Homo sapiens: one gene and its partner. The protein of the gene in region 2 purifies or fractionates together with the protein of the main gene of each other region. This does not show direct contact. Each region holds a gene or a part of one and is shown on either strand. Other genes may lie near its edges. The genes, in order: B3GALT2 and SMAP1.

The links.
Region 1: the proteins of SMAP1 (region 2) and B3GALT2 purify together in Homo sapiens (co-immunoprecipitation; one large-scale study listed by IntAct). This does not show direct contact.

What each region holds. Positions count from the first base shown.
Region 1 is NC_000001.11:193,177,920-193,180,949, forward strand, and holds the end of B3GALT2 (beta-1,3-galactosyltransferase 2), read right to left. Parts: coding exon 2,375-3,030; 3' UTR 811-2,374; downstream 1-810. UniProt on the Homo sapiens protein: Beta-1,3-galactosyltransferase that transfers galactose from UDP-galactose to substrates with a terminal beta-N-acetylglucosamine (beta-GlcNAc) residue. Can also utilize substrates with a terminal galactose residue, albeit with lower efficiency.
Region 2 is NC_000006.12:70,856,219-70,860,056, reverse strand, and holds part of SMAP1 (stromal membrane-associated protein 1), read right to left. Parts: intron 3,379-3,838; exon of another isoform or gene 3,199-3,378; coding exon 3,027-3,198; exon of another isoform or gene 2,136-3,026; coding exon 1,828-2,135; exon of another isoform or gene 729-1,827; coding exon of another isoform or gene 627-728; exon of another isoform or gene 1-626. UniProt on the Homo sapiens protein: GTPase activating protein that acts on ARF6. Plays a role in clathrin-dependent endocytosis. May play a role in erythropoiesis.

The DNA of each region.
Region 1 (3,030 bases), on a different chromosome or scaffold from region 2:
TGGTGTTTTCATCTTCTTAAGTACCTATTAACACTTTGAACATAAAGATTAGTTATTTGTGTACCCTTTGACCAAAAGCAAAGCTGTCATTTAAAATTATATTTTTATGTATATAAAAATCACATAGTGTCGGGATGAAGAAGACACAGTTAACAAGTGGTGAGATGTTTATATACACTATCAGCTTATTTTGCTTAAGAAAACGACTTGAGTATTGTTGCGGAAAAGTCAAAAGTAAATTAATAGAATATTTATTTTAAAGTAAGGATTTTCAACAGTACAAAGACACTTTACTGTTTGATCCAGTCGCCTTTGAGAGCTCACAGTGTCTGATATCAGATTACTATCGTTTTTCAAGATAATGTTAGGAATATAGAAATTTACATAGATTTTATAAATTTTATAGATTTTAAATTGAAACTTGAGATAGGAAGAATTTAGGTGTCTGTTATCTGTTTTTCATGAGTCATTTTTTAAAAAACTTTTTCCAGATGGAAATTACTATCTTTTAAAGATCCTGCAAAATAGTCATAATTTGGACAAATAGAACTTGAGTTCTCTTTCTATGTACACACCTGTGTATGCACACACACACACTGTTTTTAAAACTTTTGAAGCATAAATCAGCATTATTCTACACTGAGGGAAGGATTCCTTTTGTCTTCTGTCAAACATGCTGATCTGATTTGGTATTATCCCCTTATGTGTGACTTTTATTAAGTAATTCTGGTATTTCTGTAGTCATATAGAATAAATTAAGTGAAAGACAGGCTTGATCCAAGAGCTGGGGTGTGTTACATAGATCAGCTCTCAGAATCACTTGATTTAGAGTAGAACACTTAGGCTACTGATTTGAAATGGAGATAAGCACTTAAACAGTTTTAGTGTTTTCAAGTTTCACAAATGTTACAATTCTCTTCTGGTGATTTATCCCTTAATAATAGAATAAGAGGTAAAAATGATTGTTATTAGAATTAAGAAACATTCTGACTAAATTAAGATTGACAGATTTACATACTTGTATGGAATAAAAACACTATTTTAGTTAGTAGGTTGGTATTTCTTGATTTTAAAATTCATGATGGAGTCAAACAAAATTATTGTGAAAATACTTATAACACTCAGTAAAGTTTTTTGTTTTCCTTTATTTTTAAAAACTTCATAAAAGTGCATTGTATACATTGTTCATCCTAGAATTGTGTTTGTCAAACGTTTGTAGTTTTCCCCATCCCTCCCAAAAAGGTTTTTAATTGGTGATTCAGAATATTTGTCATCTACCAAATTAAAAACTGCAGGTTTGCAAACTTGGCACTCCAAGAAAGAAATAGGTGCCATAAAATGATTAAGTGTTGGCATGTGTACACCTGCTGTCAGGAAATAAACTTCCCGTATGTTGCATTTTGGCAGACATGCATCTTAAAAATGTGTTGAATGAAACTGCACCTGCACTCTTTATCTTTTTCAACAGTACATCCTATTTGTGCCTTTAAGTGATTACTTTTGCTTCGATTATCTTTACAGATATATTCGAAGTTAGATATACATGAAATTAAATGGTGGTGCTGTTTAAGAGTGCAGTAATTGGTCTAATCCAATAACTCATTGAAATAGGAGTTTGGTTCTTAACATCAATGAGGAAACAAAACTTGTCTATTTTGAAACATTTAATAACTATAAAAACTTGAGCCTGAGACACATTAGTTTTTCACATTTTACCACGTCATGTCAAAATAATTTTCCCCCATATATTAATAAAAGAAAGTATTAATAAAAGAAATTTAAAATAATATCTCAGTTATTTTTAAAAAGTAAATACTTTCGTGAGAACTGCATTGATGAAACATCTGAACTTTATAATGTGTTTGTGGAATAACTCAACTAAATCTTATTGCATTTAGAACCCTAAAATAGGTCAAAAAATTTATCCTTTGCACAATTAAAAAGTTTCCTTAAAATTGATAGTGATGTTTTATTTACATTAAATTATATATTAAAATGAAAAGCTTAATCTAAAATGAAGGATCTTTTGACTGTCATTTCTTGAATTAAAATTTATGTGGAAAACATATGCAGATACATTTTATTGGCCCCTAACAGAAGACTTGAACCATTGATTTATGCATGCTTGTTATTGCATGTTAATACACAGAATCTCCTTATACAGTTTTTTAAATAGATTGTTTTGGGAAACCTTTTTTGTTATATAATGTTATAGTTTTAAGAATTAACTTCTTCAGAAATTAAAAAAATACTTCTTGAATTTCTTTATGTGATGAGTTTTAACTAAAACTTGTCCTACGGATGTAATCAGTTCTAACTATACATGCTTTTAGCAATATTTACAAATTGCACATTTGAAAAAAAATTGTCTTTTCTAATGTAGTTTACGGTGGCGATACCTGCCTGCCTTTTCTTTTGCTGCGTTGGCACAGGCATTGTGCTTATTTTGTTGTAAATGGTTCCAGTATTTTATCAGTTCACTAGGCTGGAACTGATGAGAGGTAATTAGGTGGCTGTATTTACAGCTCGAATAAGAGACTCGCCAGTGATTGAACACAAACTCATTGGGAGGGGGTACAGGATCAATTCTCAACTTGGCAAGACAGATCCCTACATATACATCTTCCAAGTGCAAACGGCGGATACCTAAAGAAACTTTAAAAATCTTTTCTGCCAGATCTCCAGAAAAAACATAACCAGTTCCAGAACAGAAGACAGGATAACGCTCACTTGGGTAGAGGTCTGGTGGCATGTACCACTTGCTATCTTTGTTTCGATTGGGTGCATATCCTCGCATTAGGTAACCAGTGAAATAGTTATGTCTGGGAGGCAGATCTGGCTTCAGTAACTTATTGATTAAATATTCAGTGTTGACAAACATGTCACTGTCAGTTTTCATAACATATGGAATATGTGGACAGTATGTTGCAACCCAGTTCATGCCCATTAGTGTTTTAATGGTCAAATTATAGTACGTATCTAAGTATTCCTGTTGAATTATATCATGATATTGTCTGCTTTCTTCCAGTA
Region 2 (3,838 bases):
TCTTAAAGCAAATAGCTACTTTGTTCCCTTCTTTATCTACTTTCTAGATACAGTTTCCCCAAAGATTAACCACAACTTACTTAAAAAAAAATACCAAAGCAATCTTGGGATTTTAATGAGTCCGCTACTCTAACTAACTTTCACCTACACTAGGATATTGTGCTTTAACTACTAAGGAGTAAGAAAATTTTAGGAAGTAAAATAGTCTAAAATTATCCTATAAACTTTGTATGATAGATATTATTCTCTATTAAAATCTTATATACTTCCTAAATATTTTTAAAGTGGTCATAAAGCATTTATTTCTCTCGCTGATCTAACAACATAAACATCTAAAATTTATTTTCATTGTATGCAATAAAGCATAAGATTACATGTATTTTTCTTCAAGACTGGAGTCAAATATATATATATATAAGCATCTTAACCCTGTGATTCTCTTACTTCCAAAATTGGTGATAAGAGAAGGAAAGGCAAGATTTACCATATAGTGAGTGGGTTTAAAACTTACACTCAGAGTTAGACTGTGTTCTTAATTTAATACATTTGACTTGACTTATTTACAGTTTCAAAGACACTAACATAAACTACATCACTAATCAGGCATAAGTGTCTGAAGAAGCAGATCACGTCTTCATACCTACTAAAGGACATTTTAACCACCTTGTCATTGGCCAGTAGATTGCACTGATGGAGTGCTGGAGAACAGCATCACCCTTCTGCATTATCTGGAAGTAAGAGCCAGTATTAACTCCTTCCTGGTTCATCTAGCACCTTAACCTGAGCTGGGTGTGCTTCAGCATGTTGACCATGTGACTGACACTTAGCACATACAATTTTTTAGATTCCCAGCGGGTAGAGACCAATGTTTTACCTATATTCTTGTAAATGGTGGTAGCAAAATTAACTGTGATATATAGTGATTGTGCTAATGTTAGAAATCACTCTAGACTATTCCCTGAATGCTCTAAAGGTAAAACAAGTGACCAAACAGAAACCAAGATTGCCAAAATGCTGGAGGAACATCAATGGGAAGTGTAAAAGGAAGAAGAGTGGGAGCATGAACCTCTCTAAGAGCCTTTGTCTGTGCAGCTAGAGAAAAGTCAGAACACAGCACCTGAAATAGAAATGTTCTATCTCAGCTCTAACTTAGGTAGAAATAGGATTTTATAATATGAGGGGATGTCTGGTTCACACCTTATGGGAATTGAATCTTTTTGTACTCTTTTTAAACATAAAAGTCATTATAGGGTATGTAAAAAGAAAATACAACTTTACAAAGGTTTCTCAACAAAAAGAATTTTTACAGAGCCATGGGGCAGTAATCATCCGACCTGAAAAATAGCCTTAGATCCCTCATAAAATAGTGCTTTGAGAATATGAGGCTAGATTTTTATTTTCTAATAAAAGATCCTAAAATTATTAGTGAAGCTAAGTTGTCTAAGTGGACTGTAAAAATGTCCCACCAGCAAGCTGGATAAAGCTTAGTGCTAATCTCAGAGGTGACAGAGAGGGAGTCTCATGATGCCTGAGATAATTTCTGGCCATTAGTGGTGTTCACGTTACAGTTACATTACAATTTGAAATGAAAGATGTTTAACCTTTTTTTTACAGAATACTCTAAAATAGCGATAATAACACATCATTTGTCTATCTGATACAACTTCATAATATTTATAGATACTTTTGACCCTATAACATATTATCCCTATTGAATTCTTTCTGCCAGATCACTAGACTTAAAAAAAAAAAAAAAAAAAAAAAAAAAAGATTTAGAAAATAAATCTGGTTTGATTTGGGAGAAGCTAGAAAGTAAATGACCCCTACCTGTGAGAGGCTCCACTGGGGCTGCTGAGCTTGCGGCAGGCCAAACTTACTCTGGGGTGCACCCATTTGTCCCACCATTCCTCCTTGGGGGCCAACAACGTTCTGAGGAAGTGGCATCACACCAGTTTGTGCATTTCCCATAAACCCATTGGGCATGGGCATGCCCACCATCATGCTTGGACTCTGTCCCATCACATTTCCTATAAGGCCAGGAGCTGCAGGCACAGGCACGCCCATCGATGGAAAGCCCTGAAATGCAGCTGGTGCTTGTGAGGTAAATGGTATATTTGTGGGTCCCATAAATACACCTGCACCACAAAAAGAAAATGAATGAAGACAGAGCTATCACGTGTAGTTGCACTCATCTCTATAATCACAGAAAAATTGCCTTTCTGAACTACTCACAGCAAACATTTTAATTCCAGTTTGGCTGCTCCTACTACTCAGACCAACCCACACCTAAACCCTGAGAGCTGGTTGTTTCTAGGATGCAGACAAATCAGTTATTAACCTGAGTAAATTTAATTAAGAAATGTAAATCATATGCAACAGCCACACAAAATATCTTCCACTGTGAAGACCAAACTATGTAGCATGACATCATACACTGTTTTATTGCTGATTTGTACCACTGGTCCCCCAGTACGAAACAGGGAAGTGAGAGCTGACTATATCTCGCTTCAATAGGTGTAGTGGGCTGCCCAACAATTTTAGCTCACATGTGAAATGCAGCTCATTATTTTAAAGGAAATGGTGTGAAAGATTAAAACTCTGTAAACAATAAGGCTTATGCTAATATTTTGTTATGATTACAAAAAAATTCATAGATTTTTTTTAATCCATGTGGTAACTCAAGACTGTTTACCTGCAGAGAAAATACACTGTACGCAGTCATAAACTTCATGCAAATCGTTTCAATAATTCATCAAAGATAATCCATGTTCTATAAGCTTGTGAAACAACATTTAGTGATCTATGAACAGCTTGTTAATTCCAAATAAAGTTCTGTGAATCCTGTACATGCCTCTTAATTTTTTAATTCTAATGCTCATTCATTTCGGCTTCATAGTTGTATAAACTGCAACAACAAAAGCACTCACTACATGGAACAATAAAAGATATATAATTGATCTTATTATATAATTACAAAGGATGTACTTCTAGTAATGTCACTGAAAGCAGATATCAAAATTCATTACCAGGAGTACTTTGCTGTTGAATGGTTCCTGTGCCATACAGAGATAAGATGGAGTCTTTGGAAAGTTGTTTCTTTGCCACTTCTTCTGATTTTGTAGTTTGCTCAGTGAATAAATCTAGATCCCCAGATGTTACTGTAGACAGGGTTGCAGCTGCTGGTGCAGAGGGTGTCCCCTGAGACAAACACCAAAATAAGCTATCAAATTCTGCATAGTAAAGCGCAGCTTATCCATTACTTAAAATCCAAATAAAGTTATAAAATTAGATAGGAATCAAACAATTGTAGAAGGTAAAATGGTGCCATTCAAGAGGATCACTTACAAGCCCAAGCCCATATAAAAACATCTACAATCAAGACAGTACTTCTTAATTTGAATCTGTTAATGTAGGTAGACTGAAGCATTTTCACAGTAAGTTGCATTTACTACCTAAGGTGACACCAAGTTTTTGCTCATCAAATCCTGGGGCTCAACAATAGTTAGAGATGAGAGGACCACCACTCCATAGCAACTACTGCTTCAAGAAACTGGTATCCTTTGGAATAAAGAACATTTCTACAACTACAACAGACTGTAAGAGGATTTGCAATGGCTACTTAAAAGGTTTTATCTTTTCAAAACCTGTATCATAGGATTTTTATACATCTAATCAGTTTTAACTACAATATTAGACTGCTTCTAATCTATCCAGAAATGAAGGTACAGCAAAACTTTGACCATCTATTGTCTGAACATATCCTGCCCTTCACTTTTGGACAAGGGGGCAAATGAACACAAATACAAATAAACATGTAGATATTTAATATAAAATATTC